Homo sapiens: one gene and its partner. Changing the gene in region 1 together with any one later gene gives a genetic interaction. Each region holds a gene or a part of one and is shown on either strand. Other genes may lie near its edges. The genes, in order: VPS4A and RINT1.

Evidence for each region.
Region 2: changes in VPS4A (region 1) and RINT1 together harm fitness more than expected from each alone (negative genetic interaction), as found in Homo sapiens cells (one large-scale study listed by BioGRID).

The regions. Positions count from the first base shown.
Region 1 is NC_000016.10:69,321,314-69,324,471, forward strand, and holds part of VPS4A (vacuolar protein sorting-associated protein 4A), read left to right. Parts: intron 1-1,246; coding exon 1,247-1,387; intron 1,388-2,894; coding exon 2,895-2,996; 3' UTR 2,997-3,158. UniProt on the Homo sapiens protein: Involved in late steps of the endosomal multivesicular bodies (MVB) pathway. Recognizes membrane-associated ESCRT-III assemblies and catalyzes their disassembly, possibly in combination with membrane fission.
Region 2 is NC_000007.14:105,538,388-105,542,407, forward strand, and holds part of RINT1 (RAD50-interacting protein 1), read left to right. Parts: intron 1-3,339; exon of another isoform or gene 3,340-3,468; intron 3,469-4,020. UniProt on the Homo sapiens protein: Involved in regulation of membrane traffic between the Golgi and the endoplasmic reticulum (ER); the function is proposed to depend on its association in the NRZ complex which is believed to play a role in SNARE assembly at the ER.

The DNA of each region.
Region 1 (3,158 bases):
GCGGGATGTTCGGTTTTTTTTTTCCCAGCTCCTGGTCCTGCTCCCCGGCTGCTCAGGTGACACAGTCTCTGAGGCCTCCTGGAGAGCCGAGGGCCAGTGCCATGGGGGCTGCACCCACTGTCCCCTCCCTGCAGCTCTTCTGGAGTGTGGCCATCTCAGGGTGTGTGAAAGCAGAGGACAGGGCCACTTTACTGTCTTAACCCTGCTGCGGCCTCCTCCGTCAGCACTGTGTGCTCTTGTGCGGGGTGGACACCAAATCAGTGTTTGGAAAGTGTTGGATATAAAATGACCAGGAAGACCTGTCTATTCATTCAGCAGATCTCTGCTGAGTATTTGCTGTGGGTCCTCCTGTGTGCCCGGCCCTGTCCTAAGTGCTGGGAAGATATGAGTGACCAACAGACAAAAATCCTAGACCTTCCGTTGTTGGTGGGGAGACAGTCAACACAGTCAGTGAGTGTCTCAGAGGATGGAGATGGAGCAGGGTTAGGAGAGAGGTGTCTCGGGCATGGAGGGAAGGGCAGATGGCACTGGGGTGATGCCTGAGACAGGAGGTGAAGGTGTGAGGGAATGAGCCTTGTGGACATTGGGGGAATGTTTTGCCAAGGCAGCGGACTTCAGTTGGAAAACCACTTTGTGTTAATCTATTTTCATGCTGCTGATAAAGACATACCCGAGACTGGGAAGAAAAAGAGGTTTAATTGGCCTTACAGTTCCACATGGCTAGGGAGGCCTCAGAATCATGGTAGGAGACCAAAGGCACTTCTTACATGCTGGTGGCAAGAGAAAATGAAGAAACAAAAGTGGAAACCCCTGATAAACCCATCAGATCTCGTGAGACTTCACCATCACGAGAATAGCACGGGAAAGACCAGCCCCCATGATTCAGTTACCTCCCCCTGGGTCCCTCCCACAACATGTGGGAATTCTGGGAGATAGATACAGTTCAAGTTGAAATGTGGGTGGGGGCACAGCTAAACCATATCACACTTTTAATGTCACTGTATTCCTGGTGAGACGTGACAGTGTTAATGAGGAAGACATCAAGGCATTGGGGCTACAGATTGCCAGAGTCCCATGCAAATCATGAGTCGCTCGGACCACCCAGCCCGAGTTCTGAAGGAGCCCGTCCTCCTCAGATGCTAGGGACCCACAGAGCATTCTCTTTGGGACTTCCTTAGAGACCGGAGGGGTCGAGCCCCTCTGACACTGAGGGGCAGCTGCCCCAGTCAGATCCATTTGGTTTCAGGTCTGTGGCCCCTCTCGCACCAACCCCAGCATGATGATTGATGACCTCCTGACTCCATGCTCACCAGGGGACCCAGGAGCCATGGAGATGACTTGGATGGATGTCCCTGGGGACAAACTCTTAGAGCCTGTGGTTTGCATGGTAAGTGACTTGACAGGGGAGGGAAGAGGGCTGCACAGAGCCCAGAAAATTGAGGGTTTGGGTCCAGAATAAAAACGGTCTTCTCCAGGCCAGGCATGGTAGCTCACGCCTGTAATCCCAGCACTTTGGGAGGCCAGGGTGGGCAGATCACAAGGTTAGGAGTTCGAGACCAGCCTAGCCAATATGGAGAAACCCTGTCTCTACTAAAAATACAAAAATTAGCCGGGTGTGGTGGTGTGCACTTGTAGTCCCAGCTACTCAGGAGGCTGAGGCAGAAGGATCGCTTGAAGCCGGGAGGCAGAGGTTGCAGTGAGCAGAGATTGGGCCACTGCACTCCAGCCTGGGTGACAGAGTGAGACTCCGTCTCAAAAATAAAAAATAGTCTTCTTCTATGTCCTGGGCTGTTGAGAATGGCCTTTGTAGCTCAGGGAAGCTGGCATTACACTCACTGGGGGCCCAGAATGCAGGTGGCAGCATTAGCATTTTGTACATACAGAGAAAGGCTAGATGCAGTGGTGCAGTGATAGCTCACTGCAGGCTTGACCTCACGAGCTCACACAATCTTCTGACCTCAGCCTCCTGAGTAGCAACAGGCACACACCATCATGCCCAGCTAATTTTTCCTTTTTTTTTTAGAAACGGCCTCACAGTGTTGCCCAGGCCAGTCTGAAACTGCTGGGCTCAAGTGATCCTCTCAGCGTGGCCTCCCAAAGTGCTGGGATTACAAGCATGAGCTGAGCCACCACACCTAGCCTGCATTTTATATTCTTTAGCAAGTAAAGTCAGGTCCAGATAATATGACGTCAATCCATGGGTTTGGCTTTGCGGTGCAGTGAGGCAGTGAATGTGTCAAGACTGTGACGCAGTTGCAAAGGCAGCGCCTCACCTGCATAGCCTGGCCCGTGCCATCCTGGCAAGGGTCTGCCCTTGTGGCTGGTGTTGGGGGTGTGCAGCTAAGAAGGCTCCTGGCCGGGCGCCGTGGCTCCCGCCTGTAATCCCAGCACTTCGGGAGGCCGAGGCGGGCAGATCGCCTGAGGTCAGGAGTTCAAGAGCAGCCTGGCCAACATAGTGAAACCCCGTCTCTGCTAAAAATACAAAAATCAGCCATGTGTGGTGGCACGTGCCTGTAGTCCCAGCTATTTGGGAGGCTGAGGCAGGAGAGTCACTTGAACCGAGGAGGTGGAGGTTGCGGTGAGCCGAGATCATGCCACTGCACTCCAGCCTGGGTGACAGACTCCGTCTCCAAAAAAAAAAAAAAAAAAAAAGAAAGCAAGTTCGTAAGGGGAGTTATGAGATGATGGAGCTTAGATTCTCAGACCAGGAGGAGGCCCATCTGAGCTGCCTCGAGAGGGAAGAGGGTCCCTGCCATAGGCAGATTCAAGCAGGCCTCTGGGGTGGCCTTGAAGGCAAACCTCTTCCCACCCTCAGCTGCGCCTGTTGTGTGCTGAGGGGAGGTTGGGGACCTGGAGCCTGGCTCCTGCTCAGGCACATACTGTTGCCTTCACAGTCGGACATGCTGCGGTCTCTGGCCACCACCCGGCCCACGGTGAATGCAGACGACCTCCTGAAAGTGAAGAAATTCTCAGAGGACTTTGGGCAAGAGAGTTAAAAGCTGCTTCACTTGGGCAATGGTGAAGGTGGGAGGTTGATTGGGGCAAATCCAGGCACTCCCCATGTCAACAGCCAGACAGGGCTCCAGGGCTTGTCCCAGTCAATACAGAGTTCCCTCTGCTGTCTGGCCGTCTGCCAGGGAGCCAGAAGGAAGGGCCTT
Region 2 (4,020 bases), on another chromosome or scaffold:
CCATTACCTTAGGCCTCCACACCTTCCTGTCTTCCCACCACAACTACTGCTAGTCTTCAAGTTTAGCCTGGCTTTGTCTGCCTTTTCACTCCTGCAGGCAGGTTGTTGTGGGCCCAGTTGGAGGAAGTCATGCAGCTGAGTAGATTGATGCCAATCTATGTGTGTGGTCTGCCACCCTGGCTGAGTCTTCAGCCCCACCAGCAGTCCTTCCATGGGAACGTCAGCTCCTCTGCTACTCCCCTCAACTGTTCTTTCAGATTCTGTTTGAGACATCTACCCAACCTGTCCATTCTGCCCTTTCCTTTTCCCTAGCAGAAAAAAATAGAAGCCTAGCATGAATTTAGTAGCATTGAATTCAGTCTGTTGAATAGTCTATCCCACAATCGACAAATTTATGTGCAGTCATTTTTAACCTCTTCATTCAGCAAAGGATCAGTCGAAGGCAGACCTTATACCCCAGGTTCTCTCTGCCACCTCAGTAAACTTGTGTCACTCTTATAATTTTACCCTGTGTTCGTCAACCAGTCCTATCCCTTCAGCATGTGCACATAGACAGGTCTTTTCCATAAAACCTTAACAAAGAAACAAAAAAACCCATGATCTTTTAGCAGGTATTAGTTCTTTCCTTTGATTGTCAGGCTTCAGAAAGTAACCTTTGTTATCTATCTCTACTTTTTGTCATTCATCTTTTACCCACTGTAATCAGGTTTGTTTCCCTAATGACCACAGAAACTTTTACTGAAGTTCCTTATTGAACCTTAAATTCAGCATGTCCAAAACTATACTGATCCATTTTTTAGAGGCTTGTCTGTCTTGGTTAGATAATGGCACCACTATTTGCCTGTCACCCAGACCTGAAGCCTAGGAGTCCTAGATTCCTTCTTATCATCCTCTCATCCTCTATCCCATCACCAAGTCATCTGAGTTCAGCCTCAACATCTCTGGTATCCATCCCATCTTTCCCACTCTTTTTTTTTTTTTTTTTTTTTTGAGTTGGAGTTTCACTCTTGTTGCCCAGGCTGGAGTGCAATGGCACAATCTTGGCTCACTGCAACCTCCACCTCCTGGGTTCGAGTGATTCTCCCGCCTCAGGCTCCCAAGTAGCTGGGATTATAGGCATGTGCCACCACGCTCGGCTAATTTTGTATTTTTGGTAGAGATGGGGTTTCTCCATGTTGGTCAGGTTGGTCTCAAACTCCCAACCTCAGGTGATCTGCCCGAAAGTGGATCTTGGCCTTCCAAAGTGCTGGGATTACAGGCGTGAGTCACTGCTCCCGGCCCATCTTTCCCACTCTTGCTGATACCATGTTAGTTTAGGCAGATTGGGAGCTTTGTAGAAATGCAGAATCTCAGTCTTACTTCAGACTTACTGTATCAGAATCTGTATTACAACAAGATCTTTAGGTGATTAATGTGCCCATTCATTAAATATAGCCTGTCTATTTTATTGCATTAATCCCACTGTTGAAATTATTTGCTTACAACACTCTTATATACCAAAGTGACCTGAAGGACGGATGCTGTGTCTTGTTTATCTGCATATTTCTAGCGCAGTGCCTGGTACAGAATAAGTATCTAATCACTGTTGATTGAAATTATTCTATAATGTTCTTTGTATTTTGCTGATGACTAATATTTGTATATGTTTTCCCACATACTATAAGAAAAATTCACTTAATAAATGCCATTTTCTTTTTTTTTTTTTTTTTGAGATGGAGTCTTCCTCTGTCGCCCAGGCTGGAGTGTGGTGGTGTGATCTCAGCTCACTGCTACCTCTGCCTTCCGGGTTTCAAGTGATTCTCCTGCCTCAGCCTCCTGAATAGCTGGGATTACAGGCATGCGCCACCATCCTCAGCTCATTTTTGTATTTGTATTTATTTTATTTTATTTTTTGAGACAGAGTCTCACTCTGTCGCCCAGGCTGGAGTGCAGTGGAGCGATCTCAGCTCACTGTAACCTCCGCCTCCTGGTTTCACCAATTCTCCTGCCTCAGCCTCTTGAGTAGCTGGGATTACAGGCTCATACTACCACACCCGGCTAGTTTTTGTATTTTTATTAGAGACGGGGTTTCACCATGTTGGCAAGTGTGGTCTCAAACTCCTTACCTCAAGTGATCCACCAGCTTCTGCCTCCCAAAGTGCTAGGATTACAGGCATGAGACACTGTGCCCGGCTGAATTTTTGTATTTTTAGTAGAGACAGGGTTTCACCATGTTGGCTAGGCTGGTCTCGAACTCCTGACCTCCAGTGACCTGCCCTCCTTGGCCTCCCAAAGTGCTGGGATTACAGGTGTGAGCCACTGCACCTGGCCACTAAATGCCCTTTCTAAAGGCATTGCCTGGATATCATCTCATCAAGTCAGTGCTTCTTAGCCTGGCCTTAATTCAGAATCACCTGGGGTATGTTGGCAAAATATAGATGCTCAGCCTGTTAGAATGAGATCTTTGTTTCCTTTTTTTTTTTTTTTTTGATATGGAGTCTCGCTCTGTCACCCAGGCTAGATGGCAGTGGCGCAGTCTCGGCCCACTGCAACCTCTGCCTCCCGGGTTTAAGAAATTCTCTGCCTCAGCCTCCCAAAGTGCTGGGATTACAGGTATGTGCCACCATGCTCAGCTAATTTTTTTGTATTTTTTAGTAGAGACAAGATTTTGCCATCTTGGCCAGGCTGGTCTTGAACTCCTGACCTTGTGATCCACCCACCTTGGCCTCCCAAAGTGCTGGGATTACAGGTGTGAGTCACCGCACCCAGCTTGCATTTTTTTTTTTCTTCTTTGAGGAGTCTTGCTCTGTCACCCAGGCTGGATGGAGTGCGGTGGTGCAGTCTCAGCTCACTGCAACCTCCTCCCGGTTCAAGTGATTCTTGCCTTGGCCTCTCTAGAGCTGGGATTACAAGGTGTGTGCCACCAAACCTGGCTAGTTTTTGTATTTTTAGTAGAGATGGGGTTTCATCATGTTGGCCAGGCTGGTCTTGAACTCCTGACCTCAAATGATCCGCCTGTCTTGGCCTCCCAAACTGCTGGGATTACAGGTGTGAGCCACCGTGCCCGGCCCTTCCTTTGCTTTGAAGGAAAATATTTAGCAGGTAGAGCATGTATTAATAAGTTTTCTCGGCCTGGCACGGTGGCTTATGCCTGTAATCCCAGCACTCTGGGAGGCTGGGGTGGGCGGATCATGAGGTCAGGAGTTCGAGATCAGCCTGACCAACGTGGTGAAACCCCGTCTCTACTAAAAATACAAAAATTAGCCGAGCGTGATGGCACGTGTCTATAATTCCTGCTATTTAGGAGGCTGAGGCAGGAGAATCACTTGACCCCGGGAGGTGGAGGTTGCAGTGAGCTGAGATCACGCCACTGCACTCCAGCCTGGGTGACAGAACGAAACTCTGTCTCAAAAAAATAAAATAAGTTTTCTCTAGCTGGATCCTCTGCTGAGCCTATGGAGGCAGACCTCTAGATGCTTACTGGAGCCAGTGAGTTAAGTCCCTTTCTCTACATGTATGTGTATATGTATGTATGCATATATTTTTTATTTTATTTTTATTTTTTTGTTTCACTTATTGTTTTCAACACAAAGGCATACTTCTTCCTGCTATTTGTGTGTATATAAAACAGCATGTTATGTTTGGATTGATTAGTACAGGATGAAGAAATCAAACCTTTTTTTGAAGGTTTTGATGGATGATTTTCAGTTCTGTTACAAAAAATGTGTATTTTGAAGGGAACGAACTAATAAAAAAGGTTACATACAGCCTGGGCAACATAGTGAGACCTTATTTCTATTTAAAGAAAAAAAAAAAAGAAAAGCCAGGTGTAGTGGTGCATATGTGTAGTCCCAACTACTGGGGAGGTTGAGGTGGGAGGATTGGTTGAGCCCAGGAAGTCCAGGCTGCAGTGAGCTATGATGGTACCACTGCACTCCAGCCTGGGCAACAGCGTGAGATCCCCTCTCAAAAAAAAAATTATGAAAATTTTATCTGATTGCTGCTGTTCTTTCTTTCTTTCTTTTTTAAAATTATGGTCAG